4 separate regions of the Homo sapiens genome follow, and all the other regions are linked to region 3. Evidence: fine-mapped QTL for protein levels in blood plasma. A gene starts in region 3. Each other region holds a variant in brackets. All regions are shown on one strand. Distances are from middle to middle.

Region 1 (5,461 bases), 54 kb after region 3:
ATAAGACAGCCTAGGAAAGAAATCTGATTTACTAGAGATTAATCTGAGCAGGATCAGAGAGAAAAAGTGAAGAAGCAAAGAAGCAACTTAGACCCATGAAGGCCAGAAAGTGGGCATAGTGTCCCCAAGCCCACAGTCATTTACCCAGGAAATGTTTTTTAGTGCTTTGGGAAAGAACATGATACAGTAGAAAAAATATGGGCTGGAAATCCTAGAGCCTTAGGTTTTAATCTCAGCACTGCCACTCAAACTCAGTAATTTTATGACACTGGGGCAAGGAATTTAAAGTTTTATGAGCTGGTTTCCACATTCATTTACAAAAATAAAGAAAACAATCCCTATTGAGTAATTTGGTTGTGGAGTTTAAATGAAGTAATGGATATGAAAATGTCTAGTATCAAGAGTAGCATAATGTAAGCCCTCATTGTTATTTTTTTTGTCCCTCATTGTTAATGTAAAGCAGTTTCAAATGCTACTGGATAGAATTTGATCCAGCAATCCTACTACTGGGTATCTACCCAAAGGAAGTCAATATATCAAAAAAAATCTGCATGTGTATATTTATTGCAGCACAATTCATAACTGCAAAGATATGGAACCAACCTAAGTGCCCACTGACCAATGAGTGGACAAAGAAAGTGTGGTATATATACACACCACGGAATACTGTTCAGCCATAAAAAAAGAAACAATGTCTTTTTGCAGCAACTATGATGGAGCCAGAGGCCATTATTCTAAGCAAAGTAACTCAGGAACAGAAAACCAAATACCGTATGTTCTCACTTGTAAGTGGGAGCTAAGCTATGTGTATGCAAAGGCATACAGAGTGATATCATGGACTTTGGAGACTCAGAAGTGGGAGGATGGGAACGGGTCTAGGGATAAAAAACTACACATTGGGTACAATGCATACTACCTGGGTGACAGGTACACTAAAACCTCAGACTTCACCAATGTATGATTCATCCATGTAAACAAAAACCCACTGTACCCTAAAAGCTATTCAAATTTTTAAAACATTAATTAAAAAATGCTATTGGTTAGAAAAGTCCACACTCACATTTGAGAGATCTGAGACACAGTTTAATGAGAAGAACACAACTCTGGGGCCAGATTTAAATGTTGGCCTCTGCTACTTCCTTGTAGTGTGAGTTTGTAAAAATTGCTTTGTCTTTCCTGAGCTTCAGTTTCCATATCAATAAATGGGGGTCATCATGATATAGGATTACTGTGAAGACTAAAAGAGCAATATTTAGAGGTTTGAATTAGAGAAAACAGAGTATCTGGTACACAATGGGCTTTCAATAAACATTAGCTCTCATTATTATTCTAGTCAGCATTTTTGGCTTGATAAAACCACAACTACCAGTTAAGGTCAAATTTTCCCCTCCTAGCCATCACAAGTTCTGCCATCTGGGCCTTGCTTCAGACTGCAAAGACCCTTGTACCTTTTGGCTGAAGGTAAGAATTCAGAATGAACTGACATTCAGCATTAACCTGTAAAGTTGTGTACTACCTGCTCCTCAGCTTCAGCTTCAACCTTTGCAAGATCTAACAGTTAAATGGTTAAATGACTACCTACTTCAATGTGCTTTCTGGCAGCCAGAATCTGCATGCAATCAATGACCATGTGACTAACGTAAGTTATGGTCATACCTAATTAGTATGACATTCTGATTATTAACTGGATATTTCCTCTCAAATAAAGATAAACATTCTATATGTAACTTGGAGTGAAACTCATGTGTTTTATACATTGAATGCTATCAGTTCAAGGGTGAATATGCCTTCAGAATGCAAGTGCTTTTTTTTTTTAATGTATTATAATTTTTTTTTTTTTTGAGACAGAGTCTTGTTCTGTTGCCCAGGCTGGAGTGCAGTGGCATGATCTCGGCTCACTGCAATCTCCGCCTCCTGGGTTCAAGCGATTCTCCCGCCTCAGCCTCCTGAGTAGCTGGGATTACAGGCGCGAGCCACAAAGCCCAGCTAATTTTTGTATTTTTAGTAGAGACAGGGTTTCACCATGTTGGCCAGGTTGGTCTCAATCTCTTGACCTCAGGTGATCCATCCACCTTGGCCTCCCAAAGTGCTGGGATCACAGGAGTGAGCCACCGCGTCTGGCCTTAATTATTATCGAGACCGGCTCTTGCTCTGTCACCTAGGCTGGAGCGCACTGGTATAATCATGGCTCACTGCAGCCTCGAACCACCCACTGCCGCCAACCCTCCCCTTGGGCTCAAGCAATCCTGCCACCTCAGCTTCTCAAGTTGCTGGGACTACAGGTGTACACAATCACACCCGGCTTTTTCATTTTTGTATTTTTTTTGTAGAGATGGGGTTTAGACATATTGCCCAGGCTGCTCTCGAACTTCTAGGCTCAAATGATACCTCTGGCTCCGCCTCTCAAAGTGTTGGGATTACAGGCGTGAACCACTGTGCCTGGCCACCAGTACTTCTTACGTAATACTTGCTGTAGAGAATCTCTTTCTACTCAAGGGAAGATGCTAAAACTGGTGTTCATGCAATTAAAGATGACATGAACATAGACATTCAGAAGCAACACTGTCATCTTGAGAGCCACATCATTCCAGTGTCACATTTCTAGAACCAAAATATGAGTCCGTGTGGGCTGCTATAACGAAATGCCTTAGTCTGGTTTATAAAGTTTATAAGCAAGAACTGTGAACAATAAATTTGTTACTATAAAAAAACTTCTTGCTTATAGTTCTGGAGGCTGGGAAGCCAATCAGTGTGCTGGCATATTTGGTGTTTGTGGAGGGTCTGCTTTCTGGTTCATGAACAGTGGCTTCTTGCTTTGTCCTCACGTGGTGGTTGGGGCAAGTCGGCTGTCTGGGGCCCCTTTTACGAGGGCATTAATCCCATTCATGAAGGCTCCACTCTCATGACCTAATCACCTCCCAAAGGCCCCACATCCTGTCACACTGATGATCAGATTTCAACATATGAATTTTGTGGCCAGGGGGACACAAACATTCAGACCACAGCACAAAGGTTAGGGACAACTTCTTAAGTAATTGTGT[G/A]ATGCAGCAAACACATGCATAAAAAAAAAATCAGAAATAATGAAAGTAAACAAGGGCAACATTATCTTAGGTTTGTCTCTGAAAACATTCAGGACGCATCACTGAGTAGTGCACAGTTTTAGTCTGTGAGCACGCTTCAGTGAAATTATATCACCACTGACCACAAAATCTTCAAATCCCAGAGTTGAAGAAAACACTTTTAGTCAGTTACTAATGGAGAAAAAATAAATATAATTTGGTTGCAACCTCGTAAGTTGCTTCCTGTTCTATAATTTAAAATAACTATCTTAAATTAGTAGTTTAATGAGTGAGCAATTTAGCACCTGATACTGCTGAGAAATTAATGACTCTGCACTGCATTAAATTTAAAAAATGAGCTTTAATAAAATTACAGTAAATTTTAAATATGATTTCCTACTTATTCATGGATTCTAGAAGCTTATTTTATGATGGTAATCTTCAGTTTAGGTCTTGGTGAAATAATTTCAAGCCTTAGCCATTGGCATTTGGTCAGTATGTGTATGTAGTGTACTATGAATGTGACTCAGCCATATACTACAACTGAGACAAGGCAATCACCAAGGTCACATACCTAGTACAACCCCATCTCCAGGCCACCCATTTACCAAGTTTGTGGCCCTCATGTAAGAGGTGACCAAGATGCACCTGCACCAAGAGCACCAAGAGGATTGTCTCAATCCTTAAGAGAAAGAAGAAGGTAAGGGCTGGGGATGAGGGGTGCACTTAAACCAGAAATGAGACATGGCCCTCTGTGGCTAGGATCCTAACTTCAGATTGCTAATTTATCCCATTTTACTTAGGCCCAAAATGACAGGCTGAATACTTTTATTGGAAATGAAACATTCCAGAGTTAGACATGTTTACTCTGGACAGTCAAGGACAGCGATGTGTAGGGAAAGTTTGGTTCATGCAAAAATGAATGAAATTTTAATACACTTAAAGTTACTTCTCACTCTGAAAATAATACCAAAGTAGAGTCAATAAATATTAAATTTCCTTCCAATTCCACAGGACCAATTAACGAAAAACATAATTTTTGTACTACAGAATAAAAATTTTAAAATCTCAAATATTTTTTCCCAAAGGCAGAGGTCATGGCAAATCTTCGGAGAAAGAGAGCATTTTGTCTATTTGAAAATTCAGGCTCAGGCCTTCAAATGAAATGATGGTTCATGCTGTCATTTCAAGTGACTACAAAGAAGAAATGAAAGAAAGATGTAAGGAGTCACTACTTTAAGGATTATTCACAAAAGTCTTAGGAATAATACAGGTGAAGTCTCAGAAAGGCAAGTCCTTATAACAGAATGGGCATGGATCATGTACTAATCAGTAGGTTACAATTCACTACCTTACAGAATTTGGGCTTCATTTAGAAGGCCTGATGGTGTACAACAGACTTTACATTTTCACATTAATGCAAGAGCCTATCAGTGAATTCATGTTCATTTCCTTTATTAACCAGCCTACATTAGATTTAATTTGTGAACTCTGCTATATAAGCAAAGAAGAAAGCAAGCAAGCACATGATCAGAAGAGAAAAAGAGCTAGATAGCCCATAAGGCTCCTAGAGGGAACTTGAGCACTCCTCATGACAGAGACACAGATGACACACTTCTAACTTCTCAAACATGCCAAGTTTGTGCTTGCCTTCTGGGTCTTTGCCTTTATTATTCCTCCCCTCAGCCCACTTGTGGTTCCTTCTAATCCTTCACGTACCAGCTCAAATGTTTTCTCTTACACAGATGACACTTTCTTCTAACACTTTCTTCTAAAGTAGTTTCACCACTGCCTCCCCACATTATCCTGTATACTTTCCAGTCACCATCAGAAGTTTGCTCATGGCTGGGCGTGGTGGCTCATGCCTGTAATCCCAGCACTTTGGGAGGCTGAGGTGGGTGGATCACCTGAGGTCAGGAGTTCGAGACCAGCCTGGCCAACATGGTAAAACCCCATCTCTACTAAAAATACCAAAAATTAACTGGGCGTAGTGGCGGGCGCCTGTAATCTCAGCTACTCAGGAGGCTGAGATGGGAGAATTGCTTGAACCCGGGAGGCGGAGGTTACAGTGAGCCGAGATCAGGCCATTGCCCATTTCCTGGGCAACAAGAGTGAAACTCCGTCTCAAGAAGCTGGTTTGTTTATTGTATACCATCACTAAAATCCAAGCTCAACTATAAAAGGGTCACCTTTTTGCTCACCATTACATGCAGGCATCTAAAAATACTTGCTTAAATAAGTGAATGAAAAAGCAGCAGAAAGGAAGCAATTTTACTTCTGAAAAATTATTCTAAAAAAATAACAGGTCAACTTTACCAAGATATAGATATACATTTATAATAATGAAAAGAAATTGTCTAAAAATCTATCCAATCTATCCAAATGAGTATTTTCTTTTTTTT
Region 2 (5,508 bases), 19 kb before region 3:
TAGGCATTTACAAAGCTATGCATACAACTACATATACATAGCTAGACTATTACCTAACAGCTAATGAGCTAAGCAAATATTCTCGGGACTAAATTTTGCTCATCTGCAATATACTTCTTATTTCTGCTGGTCTCCAAGGTGACAATGCCATACTAAATATATATTTTAAATATTTATATGGGACAATATGTCCCAATCCCTAGCTCTTGCCATAAGCAAATTATCTGTATAGTTCAAGTAGCTCGATAAAATAACAGTAATAAGGAGAAGCTGAGTTTATATCCACAAAGCTCAAATATGAAAGAACCTCCTCTCATTTATGCTTACTCAACCCAAAAATTCATATCTTAGGTTATTCATGAAAAGGGTATCTTAGATCAATAGATCTGAAACATAATCCTCATCTGAATTATGTTTACACACATCAACGTACACATCCCCACAAGCCCAAGAACTGTGAAATTGTGAAGAATCAGAGAGAGGTATGTTGCATGCATTAGCTGTCACCTTTTTTGTGCCTGCTACCCTAAATCAGATGTAACAGTTTATTTTTATTACCTATAGTTGATTTCTTGATACTCTTTTTGGGGGGCCTGTAGCATTACCATCATTTCTTGTTTAATTGCTAGTAATCTTCCTCTCCCAACCTCCTAATGGCACAAGTTTTTTAGAATGGAAAATGAAATCTATTATTTACTGAGCTTTGCACAAAAACCATTAGATATTGATTTTTCTGTATTTCACTGTTGAGAAGAAAAGCTTATAAATGAATTAGCATCTGCCTTGGTGCTTTATGTAAGGAAAAAAAAATACTTTAAAAGTTAAAGGAGTTGGTTTTGACAAAATAGGCTAAGTAGTGACAAAGAGATCTTCAAACATGGGCAGTTTTAACATTAGCAATTCATTTACCTCAAAGCCTGAAATTAATACAATACCTTCAATTGTGGGACAGAGTGCAGTGCTACATTTACCAGCAGCCATGGAAAGGACAGAAAACTATTTTCAGCTTAGTTCTTCCTCACATTCCTTCCACTCCTCTTGCTTGATTTTTCTAGTGACTCTCCTAATACTAATGATCTCCTACATATCTGCTAATGAACCTGGAGACTGTTTATTTCATAGAAACATGAGTTTATCACCCTAGTAGAAAGAAATCTGAGTTTGCAAAGTTAACATGCCCAGTACTTCGCAGAAGTTAGTCTGCAGCTCAGGGGAAATGCCCCATGATACACGCAGTGCCCGAGCAGTGAACAGCCTTGCTGCCTCAGAGTAGCTTCTTATAAAGATCAAAATAGTTCAGAGGAGACAAGAATCTTAGCCTTCTTTATTCAGTTTTGCTCATACAAATATGCTCATTTATTTTTTAAAAACAAAAGGATACTAGTATTTTTGATATGATCTTAGAAGATCTAAAGAAGTCTAAGTCCCTGATACAGCTATGAAATATGACACTCACTGGACTGTCACTATTTAATGCAACATTGTTTGAGTTCAAGCTTAAGTGTGATAAAACTTTCTAACTATCCCTGACCTTTGTTTGAAATTGAATGCTTTTGGGTCTTATCCAGAGGTGTAAGACTATAATTAACTTCATCAGATCCCCAAACTCTCATAACCTTTCATGTACCATGACTTTGGAGGACTACTATGTTTGAGTGGATATTTTTCTGTTTTTTCTAGGAAAAAAAGCCTCAGATCTGTGCTTAGGATTTATTGTCAAAAACTATGGGGAAGGAGAGAAGAAAATACAATTGTATTTGTGTTACAATCTCCTTTATAACTTTTTCAAGACTGACCTTTTCTAATCAGATCAGAGTTTAAATCATTTTAATTTTTACCAGATGCACTGTAAGTCTCATATCCTGGCATTTGACCCCTGAATCCCAATTGTCCTCTTTTCCTCCATTTTAAAACACATAGGAGCAAAGCACAACACATTTTAAAAGATATAAAAAATAAAATTTTATAATTTGAAGATCCAGGTCCTTAACTATGACTTTTTTACTGAGCTCTAGATCTATATTTCCAACTGCCTGTACGAGGTATCTATGAGCAGTTCCAAAATTTTTAACAGTTCCATAATTTTTAACATCTGGTAACATCCATCACACCATGAATTTGTCTTTCTTCTGTAGAACTGATAGTAGTATCTTCTGACTCCATAACTCTGGTGTATCCATTCTTCTGTAAATATGAGATGAGAAAGGGAAAGAGAACTAACATTTGTTGAACTCTTTCAGTCACTTACATATGAATTCATTCATTCTGCAAATATTGGGCATCTGCTACATTCCAGGCTCTGTGATAGGCATGTAGGACACATGATGGGCACTACAGACAATCCAGAAGAGGATAAAGACATTGAACAAAGAAAGTACACACAAAATAATTTG[T/C]CACATGTGATACATGACATGAAATTAAAACACAATGTATATGTGTAATAAGAACATATAACTTAATGACCTAAACTAGTCTGGCCTCCAATATACTGTGAGAAAATGATATTTAAAGCTTTGGGTGAGTTGTAGTTCTCTAGGCAGGAACTACATCTTTATATATAAGACAGAGAATATGAAGTCCATAAAGGAGACTGAGAAGCAGCATCCAGTGATGTGGAAGGAAATACAGGAGAGTGTGGAATTGAAAAAGCGTCTTCCAAAATAAAAGCAGGGTAGTCCTCTGTGTCAAATGACCCTCAGAGCTAAAATGAGTTCAGAGAGAAAAGGGTCCACTAAATTCAACTGGCAACGTGATGACTGGACCCTGAGCAAAAGAGAGAATAGGACTTTGAAAGCTAGAAGACTTTATCCACTACACAAGAAGGAAAAGGAGAGAAAGGTACTGATATTGACAAGTTTGTAAATTGGTTGGTGGAATAATGAGGGTGTTCTTTCCAATGGCTTTTACCTTCTCATTGAAGAATGAAGTGAAGTCATCAGCTATGGGGAATGAGGGGCTACGAAAAGCAGGATGTGGGCATGTAAGCAAAGAAAGTATAAAGCAGTTATTTCATCAAATAGAAAGGCAAACCTTATAGTGGGTAAGAATGCTTGGCAATCTTGATTGTCTATTTGAATTTTCTATCTTGAATTTAAAGTGAAACCAGTCACCTCAGTTGAGTAATTTTCTCAAATAACTGGAGTTGGGATTTGCCAGATGAGTATGGAAGAGGAAGAGAAAGCAAAGAAATTGAGGGTATCTTCAAGGGTATCAGTATTGCAGTAGACCATGATATCTCACATAGACAAGAAGGCCAGAGGCTTAGCAGATAGTAAGCAGTAGCTGATGGATAGGTAATCTCAACATGGTAAAAAAAAAAAAAAAAAACAGCAGTGATGATACTGCAACAAATCATCTGGAATGAAAAGAGGCAGCAGGCAAAGAATGGGATTCTTAGAATTAATATTACAATGCTGGCACCACTGCTAGCACCACTGAAAGGCCCAGAACTGCTCATGGAAGTGAGTGGCTGGGGTAGAATAGACAAGCAGGTTAGTAAAGTGAAGAAATCAGTGCACTAGATGGATCATCTACCTTATCATCACAGCTATCAAAACAGCAGCAGGAATGGATGCCATGGTGGAACTTGTTCAGATAGCCCTTAAAACAGAAGATGGGCAATATACCACTTGGCCATTCAGGAGGTCAATTCCACTATCCTTCTAGAAACAAGGCGATAGTAAAACATCCCTAGATTCCACCCCATGGAACACATTCCCTCTTCCCAAAATTGCAAGTCATCAAATGGACACTTAATGGAAAACCGACAGGGTCTTATTGTTCCTAGGGCATTAACAAACAAACAAAACACCCGAACCCTAGAGTCCTGGTGTCAATGATGAAAGGGAAGAAAACGAACAACAACAACAACAACAGCACAACTCCTGCAGATTCAGAAATCAACTATATTAAACTAGGAACCATATAGAAGTCATATTGGTATTATGCTCATACAAGGGTGTACTTTTACACAATTAGAAATAAAATAAAATGATGCACAGAACTCAAAGTCTCAAAAATGCCATGGTATGCCAAAGCAGCCAGTCCCAAGTGTGTACAGTATGCTTCCATTTACGTGAAGCTGAATAACGACACCCATCTATGGCAATGAAAATCAGAACTGTGCTTGCCTCAGGGCAGAATGGGTGATAAGACACCAGACAATTTAAAGAAATGTTCTTTAGGCCGGGGTGCGGTGGCTCACGTCTGTAATCCCAGCACTTTGGGAGGCCGAGGCGGGTGGATCACGAGGTCAGGAGATCGAGACCATCCTGGCTAACACGGTGAAACCCCGTCTCTACTAAAAATACAACAAATTAGCCGGGCGTGGTGGCAAGTGCCTGTAGTCCCAGCTACTCGGGAGGCTGAGGCAGGAGAATGGTGTGAACCCGGGGGGTGGAGCTTGCAGTGAGCTGAGATCGCGCCACTGCACTCCAGCCTGGGCGACAGAGCAAGACTCCGTCTCAAAATAAATAAATAAATAAATAAATAAATAAATAAATAAATAAATAAATAAATGTTCTTTATCTTGATCTGGATGATGGTTACATAAATATATACATTTGTCAAAATTTAAATGCAGCATACACTTAAGATTTGTAGTATTTTACTGTAAATAAATTATACCTTAATAAAGTCCTATTAACAAAAAATAAGACATTTCTTTCATTTTTTTATAAAAGGAAGTGTGTCTTGACTTAGTAACCATTCATTACCTATGTAAAACAATATTTATTTCCTACACCTATACACAGGGCAAAGAATATCATATTAAATTTTATTTTGGATTACACCAGTATATGGAAAATGTGATGAAGTTGACTGGTGAACCTAGGCGATATAACAAGGCTTTACAAAGTAAAAGTAACATTTGCTCAACTTAGCTGTAAAAACAAACCTCAAATATTGTAATAAAGGACTCAATTCACAGTAATTTGCACTTTGTAAAAGAAATTGCTTAAGACTGACAGAACTAACGCTATATTAATAAGAAAAGGAAATTCAGTTTATTCCTTTTTGTCTTTGGAAAATTTCAAATAAACTGCCTTTCACAAGTTTTCTGCATCCAAGAGTTATTCAGAATATCCAAAATATAGAAAGAGTCAATACAATTATGCTTGTTTTCCCTCATGACTTCTGAAGTGTTGTTTTGAGATAGACTCTAAGGAAGTCAATTAACAAAAAGAAAAGGGGGCTTCACAGCCTCTAGAACACCATGTGTCCACTCAATGCCAAGTATTGAAAAGAGGTGAAAGGAAAGGGAGTGCCAGTCACCTATTTGCTCTTTCATTCCATGTCATTGGCACATATTGTGCCTGATACGAGTAAGTGTCCCTTATATTTTTTATTAATACATAATAGATGGACATATTTTCAGAGTACATTGATATTTTCATACATTCATATAATGTGTAAATATCAAGTTATAGGGTAATATCCACCACATTAAACATTCCTCTTTATGCTGTGAACATGTGAATTATTGTACATATTGAAATGTACAAGTAG
Region 3 (5,508 bases):
TGCTTCCTATCCATATTGACTATGGCTTTTTGAGAGCCATTAACCTTGCCAAACCTCACTCACTCTAGGTCCACCTCTAAGGGAGGTTTAAGAGCAAGTTTTGTGCTTTACGGGGAGGAATGCATTTCAGCCTGAACCACTGCCACCTCATTCCTAGCCCTTGGCCTGAGAGGAGCACCTGCATTTAACTGATTCTAAGTGCCTGGCAAACCAGAGCGGCAACTGCACTGAGCACTTCCAGACTCTGCAGTCTGTGACTTTAGTGAGTACGAAGCCTCAAGCATGCTCTTTTAGCAAAGATTAATAGCAAATACATTTCTGTGATGATTTTGCACAACTAGCTTTTGGTTCTTGATTAAAATCAAGAAGACAATAGGTATATTCAAAAAGTGATAAACTAAGTGAGGTCACCATTAAAAAGTTCTTGAAATTCTTCTGTTTATTTTTTTTCCTTCAGCTATTTTTACAATTACTTCTCCTTCTCTCACTTTGTTAAATGAGTCAACGTGCACAGAAGGTAATTTTTCCAAATCAATTTCCCGATAACTAAGAATTACTACCTGGAAATGGACTGGGGACATGCGCCTAGACTGCGCAAGTTGAAAGAGGAAGGAAAGTTGATGCCCAAGAAATAAACAGATGGAGGCAACCAAGTCAACACATCTAAGAACAGAGTTGTTGGGGGGTGGGGGATGTGGTATGAAAGAGGACCACTCATGAAAAAAAATTGCCTTCTTTATAAAATATATGAAGGGTAAAATTTGAGGTTGGGTTAGTTGGTAGAAGTAATACTGAGTTAGAATTAAATGGACCATAATGAAGTAGGTTTAGTTGGGGTCTTAAAGTTACAAATGTCATAATTAGACTAAACACTAGTGAGAAAACAACTTGTGATTGACTCCATTAAATTTAGAGCTGCAATAAAGTTTTATGGTAGGGAAAGACTGAAATGACTGTGGTTGGTGCACACACGGAAAAGGAGCATGAAATAAGGTATTAAAGACAATTTTTTTTTCAAAACATGAGAGTGGAATAAGGGGTGAGATTTAAAATAACATTACGTGAGTGTATGATAACACGCCTTAAATATAACTCCTTTCATCTGTATGCCACTTATAAAATGACTTGAAGGCATGTGGGCATGTGAAAAGAGCTCAGTAATTTCAGTCTGCCAGCTCTATGGCAAGCCACAGAAGCTAATTAACAGTGCATAGCAATGTTTCACAATTGTTTCATTCTGGAATGGAAGAACAATTTATCTCATTGAAAGGAGGGGGAAATTTAAGGTGAAGGTAATTGCTCAAACTGGATCTTGAGCAAACACATACCCCTAACATCTGTCGGTTAGAGTAAGGTTATTGAAATTATCTTGGCATTTTTAATTAGAAGAAAATGGGGCTTCAGTTTTCTGTTTCCTCCACACAATCTTAACAAGCATCTAAGACACTAAAGATACAGAAACCTGATGACTGAGATTGCCTGAGAATCAGCAAAGAAAACCCAATGATTATAAACACATTTTAAAAGAAAAAGAGCATCACTTTACAAAATGTGGCTACTTGCACATGTAAGGAGTTGAAGTGAAGGATTCCTGTGGAGTAGAAGTGTGATGGGTTTGGAATGCATGGATTGTTTTAGAAAGATCGCCTATTGGAACACAGTGCCAGAGTGCATCAGTTTGGAAGGTGATAAGGTGAGGGTTTTTTTGTTTTTGTTTTTGAAAAAAGAAGAAAGAAGAAGAAGGGTCTTTGATAGAGGAGCAGTTATGGGAGAGATTAAGTGATCCGAAGAGAAAAAAATTAGAGAGTAAAGGCTAGTAACAAGGACTCCAAGAATTGAGGAGGCTGTAGGGTAAGGGAAGGGTGGGCCGTGTCAAAACTCACCAGCTCCGTCCGCAGTAACGATGGCCTCGGGAGAGATGCACACGCCCCTGTCGTACACTGGCAGCTCCTCGCAGGCCAGGTTCTCCGGCCACGAGTGGCGGTACTTGATGAGTATGGGCTCACAGCCCTGCCGGGCCCGCTCGCACACAGACTTACAGGGCTTGATGGGCTCGTGCTGGAAGTCAATGGTGCAGATGGGCGCGTACATGGCACAGAGGAAGAAGAGCAGATCGGGGCTGCAGTGGGTGCCCAGCAGACCTTCGAACTGCTCGATGGCCAGGATGGCGTTGGCCTGAGTGCTGTGGTGCAGGTGGTTGGGCATCTTAGTCATGTTCCAGGGCAGGGACTTGCACAGGGGGATGCGGACGGGCTCACAGGCTGCAGCCCGAGCCCCGGGCACCCGGAGCAGGCAGAGAGCAGCCAGGGCAAGCAGCCCGGCCCGCAGCAGCAGCATCCCTCCCGGGCTGCCGCAGACCATGATCCCGGCAGGATGGGGCAGGGTGCAGCCGCGCAGTGGACGCCAAAAGGCCCGCTCCGCCGTCTCCGCCTCCCCCGCTGCAAGTGGACACAAGGATCTGGGAGCTTCTCCTCCCCCGGCAATCACCGCTTCCTTGGATCAAATTCCCCCAATGGGGTCCCACGAGCTTTACCGAGCTCCAGCCACCGCCCCTGCCGCCCAGGCTGCTCTTTCCCAACGTCTAAGCCTTCGGAAGCAGCAACATCTATTTATTCCTCTCCCTCTGGCAGAAGCATCAGACTTCGCAGATCAGTCAGATAAGAGGGACACGAGAGGAGGCGAGGAAGACATAAAAACAAAAGTAGAATTCAGCTGAGAGCTAGTTGGAGCTCTGGGGTGTCTCCTCCCCTAGATCACGCACACAAAAAGATGCTAAAGAAAGCATTAAATTCCCCAAAGTGAGGAGGACAGAGGGGTTGGGGGGAAGGAGGGAGGAAAAGCTCCTAATGGGAGAGAAGGGTGCAGTAAGAGTTTACAAGTCCTGTGTGGGCTAAGAGCTGCGGCCGCCGCTGCGGCTGCGACCCTGGCTGGCAGGAGGGACGCTCAGGAGGAGCCCCGCAGGGACGTCTGTGCCTCTGCCCGGGCGGCTCTGCACTTTCCTACCTCCCGCCTGAGAGGGAGCTCCGCCCCTGGGGCAGTCTCTGCCCTCCAGTGCCGGCTGCTCTTCCCGAGAATGGAGTGGGCGCCCGGGGAAGAGAAGGCCTGGGAGTCGCAGGCGGTGGGGTGCGAAGCCGTGCGAGTGCGAGACCCCAAGACAGCGCCGAGTCGAGCGCGCCCTCACACTAGGGAACCCGTCTTTGGCCCCAGAAACGAGCCCCTAGCCCCTCACTGAAGAGCCCACCCCAATTCCCTACGGAAAAGTCCCCCTAGTTCCCCACTTGGGAACCCACCCGAGACCCTCCTTCCTGGAGGTATTTCCTTTAAGCAAACTACAGCTTTTCCTCTGCAATCACTGGCTCTGCAGAAAGTCAGACCTGGTGGGGGGAAAGGCTTAAGCAATGTCACTTTGTCCAAGTAGCGGAAAACACAGACCCCTGCGAGCAACGGTGGAGCCATATCAACCCAGAGCTAGTGACTACAGAGGTCTCCATTTTCAATAACTGCGGGGGAGGAGGTGGGGGGAGGATTGCCTTTAAAAAAAAAAAAAAAGAGAGAGAGAAACAAAGAAATGCTGTTCATGACTACAAATAGGCCACCAGAAGCAAGGAAAAGGGGTTTTTTCCTTCTATTCCCGCCCCCCCCACCTAGTGGAATTAGAACTCTTGAGCTTTGCTCCTTAAGGGTTAACGTGGAAACTAACAGCTCTAATACACTTGGACTTTTTTTTTCTGATTTTGCTCACGGATAACATGGCAGATATTATTTGTTATTCTCAGCAACAATTCTGCCCGACACTTAAAAAAAAAGTGTAGGAAAACGACATCACGCAGGTAATAATGATGATTATAACAACAATCAAAACCTTTCCATCCAGATGAGTTCAATCTGGAGGAGAAAATGGAAAACAGATCCCCTCCTGGTCTGCTTCTTCCACTAATGAGCTCCCTCTTCCCCCCACCCCCGCCCCACTCTACCCTTTCAGCTTATATTGTAAATGGAATGACCTGCAGAGGCCTTCACACTATGCCCTCTCAATGGGAAATCACTGAGCAAAAGGATTGCCGAATGTCAGAAAACACAGCCTTCATTGAGAGGAGAAGGAAACAAAACCTGAAACAAAACAGGAAGTCACCTTTGCTCTGCATCACTGAAATATTTCTCTGCTTCAATTTAGCCATCTCTCACCGTCCATAACAAGCAGAGAAATATGTCCCCACTTCAGAGCACATAGTGAGATGCTCATTTTCATTCCCTAGAGTGACTTGACAGCACTTATAAAATGTCAATGCTAACTTGAGTTATGGAATTTTATATCTAAAATGATCATAAACAGCAGTTTGTGACTGCTGTAAATTTTTTTGGAAGGAAGTTTGTTCCACTTATGGTGGCGGGGGCGGGGAACACCAGATGGTAGACAGGGAGTCAGTTAGTATACAAACTTTGCCTGGTCTACAATTATCTAGTGTCATGTAAGAGAACAAATTCAAAAATTGTACAAACGAATTTAAAATGATTTATCAAGTAAAATTTAGAGGAAAAACAACTTTAAAAGACAGTCAACATTAGAACATTTTGGGACTATTTTGTATAAGAAAAATATAGCTGAGATTTTCAATAATTAGAAGAAAAAACATCAGGAGTAGATGTAGTAGATTGTTTGCTAAATACATTTTTCTGTTCATCTTAAGTCTTACAGTGTGAGAAGAAATGTGCCAATAGTTTTAAAGGTTCTACAACTATTTGAAACAAAGTCTGTTTTCCTTCCCCTGCACAAAAGTCAGCTATCTTCTTTGTCTAATAGGTCCCCTTACAACTTTAATCCAAATTTGTTTTTATAAAAGCCCAAAATAAATGTCACTGTCTTGAGGAAGCCCTTTTGAGTACCTTGTCTAGTTGTGTTCATTTTTCTGGTTAGTTACCCTTGAACAGTGTTTGTTTTTACAAATTATTCCTTTATTTATTTATTTATTTATTTTGAGATGGAGTTTTGCTCTTGTTGCCCAGGCTGGAGTGCAGTGGCACTATCTTGGCTCACTGCAACCTCCACCTCCCGGGTTCAAGAGATTCTCCTGCCTCAGCCTCCCTAGTAGACTCACAAGCTCCCCACTTGTGAGTCTCCAAAGTCTGTTATACCTCTCAAAGATATGCCTTCTTGTACCCATAGCTTTGCTCTCATTTATAAGTGAGAACATACAGTATTTCATTTTCCATTCCTGAGTTAAATCACCTAGTATAATGGCCTCCAGCTCCACCCAAACTGCTGCAAAATACATTATTTCATTCTTTCTTCTGGCTGGGTAGTATTCCGTGGTGTATATATACCACATTTTCTTTATCCACTCATCATTTGATGGACATGGACACTTAGTTTAGTTCCATATTTTTGGTTGATGGGCACTTAGTTTGGTTCTATATCTTTGCAATTGTGAATTGTGTTGCAATAAACATATGCATGCAGTTGTCCTTCTGACAAATTGATGTCTTTTCACTTGGGTAGATACCCAGTAA
Region 4 (4,651 bases), 26 kb before region 3:
TTATTAACCATTTGTAAGTCACAGACCCCTTTAAGAAACAAATGAAGTTATGGCCCCTCTCCCAAGAAAAATGTAAACCTATAAACTACACGCATACACCCATTCCATATATGAAATCAAGAAACCCAACTAAAACTTATCTGTAATCCCCAAGAAGGTAGACAGATCCCAATGTAAAAATGCGAGGGTAGCATCTCTAGAGACAAATTTAATGAGAGTAGGATAAGCAAAGTAGTTATTCTGTATCCTTAAAGAGTGAATTACCTGGAACGTTCCTCATCTTCATAGCCCATGATGATATATTCCTCATTAACATTAAGTGGAGGGCAGAGGCAGCCAGAGCTGGTATAGAGGTTGACAGTGTCCCGTGGAATGTTTACCAGAGAGGACTTTAGAATCTCCTTCACCTCCACTACTGCAGTCACATCATGGCACTTAGTCTTTATCTCTTTAACTTTAGCCC[G/A]AATGACTGGGATAAAAGACAAGAAAAGCTGATAATAATATGACACATAATAGCTACCCCATTCAAAAAAAGCCAAAGTAGGCTTCTCTTTAGTTAATTCTTATCCACTTGATATTCAACGAATGGAACAGAAAAGTCAGCCAGATATTTTTGCCTTAGACTGTAGTGTGTGACATAAAACAACACACCTGACCTAATGCTCAGCCCTGCTCTCTTTCCAATTTGTGGCTGTGTATATATTTGCATGTATTTATGCATGTGTGTGCATGTGCTTTTGAGAAATCCATTTAGAGAATCAAAGATTGAGTCAACAATCTGATACAATTTTTCTCTAAAATTCCATTTTGGATGTGTATATATGCATGTGCAGTTCCAATTGCTGCCAAGAGGAATTTAAACTATGTTAATTTTACTATATGAAAAGACCTAATACTTAAATATGCTTTATTCCTTGTCGACACTGTTTTATCAGGTCCATTAACAGGTTTTCTCAAGTAGTGGGCCTCTGTAATGTTATAAAATTGTCCTGCTCAGTAGTGTTCCCAAACTGGTTCTGCAATCTTTTCACCTTCCTCATCTTGGCTCACTGTTCAGATATTAGCTCCTTTCTTTCTTTGTGGTCAGTACAGATTATCTTTTATATTCTCCTTTAGGTGGGCTACATTTTCTTCTTTGTTCGGATATTAGGTCCTTTTTTCCTTTGTGTTCAGTACAGATTATCTTTTATATTCTCCTCTAAGTGGGCTATATTTACTTCTTGAATAAAAATGGTCACCACTAGATCTTATTTCCTCCATCTGCTTTGAAGTCAGACACTCCAACATTCCTTTCCCTCACGTGCTATGGAATATATTCTCACGTGTCAATGGCATTATTCTACCTCTCTCAATGGATATATTGGCACCCAATTTATCTCACAAGACTTGCTTTACTTATCAATGTAACAACAAATTGCCTTCAGTTGCAAAGTTAAAGTATGTGACTCAGAATCTAGAAAGTACAGATCTGCTTCTTTTCTGTATCTCTCCCCTTTAAAAGAGTCAAGTTGTTCAGATTCCTGCTTCTAGTAAATGAGCTTTTAAAAAGAGAAGTTTTAAAACACCAAGAAAGAAGTAAAAATATCAGTAAAAAGCCAGTGGCATTTCTCCCAGTACCCTCATTGCTCCAGTTCACTATCCATGGACATTATATAGAGGAAAACACCGTTTATCCAAATGAGTCAACATTTCAAAAACTTCTTAGGCACATAATTGCAAACCACTTTAATCTGAGTACTTTCCCACATATTTTAGAGATTTTGGACTATAAAGGATTAGAAGAAAGTAATCCTTGAAAAATATAAAACCAGCTAATCAACCATTCCCCCCATTAATGTTCCAATTTCGTCACAAAAACTTATTCTACCAGTACAACACACATGACAGAAATTAGTTACTAAGGAATTCTAAAAGCTTCACATTTCAGTCTTCCGAGAATTAGTTGCCTCAAGTATGAGAACGTGTAGCAAACAAACTGTAACTACCCAACTGTCCTCGCTTGGTTTGACTGGCAAGTGGAGCCTCTTTCTATTCATGTTCTCCCTATTCTGTATTTAACAAAAGATAAGATTGCCCTTTTTGAAATGCCATTTGGCAGAATCAGATGAGAAATTCACAACCCCAGCTAGCAGGCATTTTTGTGTGTCCTGGCTTAAGTGAACGTGCTTCATAGCATCCATCAACTATTAGAGATTAGTGAACTGTGCAAATGTTCTCAAACTAATGATTTATTTACCCAGTGTCTACTATTTTCATTAGAAATGTTTAGCACATGTACCCACTCCAAAATAAATATCTTTCTACAAGACCTACTTTTTCACTCAAGTAATTTGGTTAACACTTAAGGAGTTTTTCCCAGAATTAATCTAAATGAAGTAGAGGTTTTGTCTGAATTTCCAACTGCTCCCACCTTGACATGCAGATATAGAAGATAAAAATATTTTGGAAGTAAAATATACTTCCTTTTCAGAGTTCTTCCTTCTATTTAACCATTTGAGTGCCTCCCTTCCCCAAAGAAACTGTAAGAAATCCCAGACAAATGGCAATCCTGAAACTATGATCAACTTAGCTATTACTTGGCTACAAAAAAGAAATTATCTGCTCCTTTCCATTAATTATAATCCATATCCCATTTTATTATGATATTCATTCAGCTACTTTCTCTAAGACCTTCACTTTCCATGACTTGTCATTCAATTTTTAACAAAAATAACAGCAACAACCATTGAAGCACTACAGAAGCTAGATAAAATAAAACTTGATAATAGGATACATAAATTAAATATAAATAATTACATTTCCCTGATATAAAATTGATATGTTTTTATTCTTAGTGTTACAGTATATAAAAGTTCAGAAAGCATTTTTCAATCTTAACAAGCTAATCTCCTAGAAATTAAGGGCTCCCTTTTCCCTAGGCTTCTTCACATCAATCTGTAAAGAAGCGGGTTCTTAGATAAGCAGCCAGGCATTTGACTTCTTACATAAACATAAGCTTACAAACTTAGAAAGAGCATCCATCATTGACTAAGAAAAGCTACAATCCTCTTAAGAGGAGTAGCAGGCAAAACATAGAAATTAATTCCATTGAAGAAAAATTTGGGAAACAAGGTGGATTTGTTTTAAAGAGATTTAACTAAACCCAAAATTTTCAACTTTATATTTTTTAATACACTGCATTTTGAAAGATATTGAAGCTAACTTTTACAGTCTTATTCATTTCTCTCCTTTCAATTCCCAAAAGTATAGAAGAAATAAATCTGCTGTATATATCCTATATACTTTAAAATAGTGTACATAAATGTAATAATAAAACTCTTATTTTAATAAGGTTCACTGTAAAAGTCTGTTTAATCTCCATGTTTACTCATTGACTCAACATCAATAGTCTTATGCAGAGATAGTAACATACCTTTTATTAATACCATAGATATTAGAAAAAATCAAAATGCATATGGAATACAGTAAATATCAGTCCCTTATGTGTCAACGGGAAAGCTCTGTTAATTGCCCTTTCTAAATATAATGACTGTATAAATGAATTTATGACTCTAAAATATACACCAGCATCCAAAGTACATTGTGAACAATCAAAGAAGGGACTACTTAGGTTCGATAATCATTGATAAAATCAAGATGGTAATATATCTCATGGGGCAGCTGAGAAAATTAAAGATAATGTATGGAAATCACTTAGCACAGTCCCTGATGCAAAAATGGCAGGCTTTTTAATCCTTCAGTTAAGTTTGTCAGCTACATTTGGATTGGTGGCTCTTCAATTAATATTTAGTTTATTAGAATGTCGGATTTTAAGTCAAGCTAGATAACAACACATTTCCTTCGCTGAATACCAGCAACTTCTACAAGTGTTACTTTCCAAATCTGTCAGTGTTTTTCATGGGATAGACTGACTGAAGAAGTCAAGTTTGAGTCTTTTAACAGTTCCTTATGCATCAAAGTGCTCTGCTGTTCACTCAGTGAAGCACAACTGATGGCCTATGCAACCCAACTTGAGCTCAAATCCTCCTTCAGCCTCCAGGCAGGGAAGAGTCCCATGTATCTTGATACTTATCTCTGTGTACTTAAGTGCATGGCTCTAGGATGACAATACTGCTTGATGTGCTTCAACATCAACCAAGTGTTAAGCATTTTGCCCGTGTGAGACATTTTAATTGGTCGGGGCAGAGGGACTATGCTCCTAAAAATAGTCCTTCTGTTTTTAAGCCTTATTCTTAAATGGCTCCACTCGTTTACATGTGCACATCCTCATAGGTGCATCCACACACCTCTCTTAACACAGCAGTTTATACATCAACCATGAAATTTTCCTTACCATAGTTGTAATTGTTCCGGAAATAGGTCTTCTGTGTAGCTCTAATAGGCTTACATTTACAGCGTTCTGAAAAACACATTTTAGTTATAAGCACATTTCCAATATTAGCTTTCTTTTGTTTTGCTCAGACTCACATTTTTTGCTCAGACTAGATCTCAATTTGGTGGTGAGAAGGCTCTTGTCAATTCTGTGTGTCTGAATTTTTTCTCCTGGAACTACATTCATGTTTATTCTATCTACATGTCCTCTTATTCAATGTCAGTATGCTCATGAGAACGAGTTTCCATTCTCAACAAACCACCCAAATCCTGAGGAAAT

Direction of the effects. Positions count from the first base shown, and alleles are read on the strand shown. Strength reflects both the effect of a copy and how common the allele is.
For the plasma level of the protein whose gene starts at base 2,446 in region 3, allele G in region 1 goes with a lower level than allele A (strong association).
In carriers of allele T in region 2, the plasma level of the protein whose gene starts at base 2,446 in region 3 tends to be higher than with C alone (weak association).
For the plasma level of the protein whose gene starts at base 2,446 in region 3, A is the high allele of the variant in region 4 and G is the other (strong association).

What was found. PIP is the posterior inclusion probability: the model's chance that the variant is causal. Protein levels are from antibody-based Olink assays in UK Biobank. Linkage for the fine-mapping came from a reference panel and not from the study's own genotypes, which makes the PIPs less certain.
Region 1: its variant is fine-mapped to the plasma level of the FRZB protein (UK Biobank, PIP above 0.99).
Region 2: its variant is fine-mapped to the plasma level of the FRZB protein (UK Biobank, PIP above 0.99).
Region 4: its variant is fine-mapped to the plasma level of the FRZB protein (UK Biobank, PIP above 0.99). The variant lies in the coding sequence of FRZB. If it changes the protein, the assay may bind it differently, which can mimic a change of level.

Annotation. Positions count from the first base shown.
Region 1 is chr2:182,917,829-182,923,289 of GRCh38, forward strand. It overlaps NCKAP1 (NCK associated protein 1), which reads right to left. Exons shown (of 31, transcript NM_013436.5): 31 at 1-5,461. Among named protein-coding and RNA genes, the nearest start is that of FRZB, 54 kb to the left of the region's middle. The variant G/A (reference allele first, on the strand shown) is at 3,042.
Region 2 is chr2:182,844,762-182,850,269 of GRCh38, forward strand. All of the region lies in intron 2 of FRZB (frizzled related protein), which reads right to left. It overlaps LOC124907916 (a long non-coding RNA gene), which reads right to left. Exons shown (of 2, transcript XR_007087330.1): 2 at 1,814-2,331. Among named protein-coding and RNA genes, the nearest start is that of FRZB, 19 kb to the right of the region's middle. The variant T/C (reference allele first, on the strand shown) is at 2,394.
Region 3 is chr2:182,864,192-182,869,699 of GRCh38, forward strand. FRZB (frizzled related protein) reads right to left here and starts at 2,446. Exons shown (of 6, transcript NM_001463.4): 1 at 1,884-2,446. The coding sequence starts at 2,361. RefSeq lists an enhancer at 1,609-2,577.
Region 4 is chr2:182,838,145-182,842,795 of GRCh38, forward strand. It overlaps FRZB (frizzled related protein), which reads right to left. Exons shown (of 6, transcript NM_001463.4): 3 at 4,334-4,399; 4 at 265-469. Among named protein-coding and RNA genes, the nearest start is that of FRZB, 26 kb to the right of the region's middle. The variant G/A (reference allele first, on the strand shown) is at 464.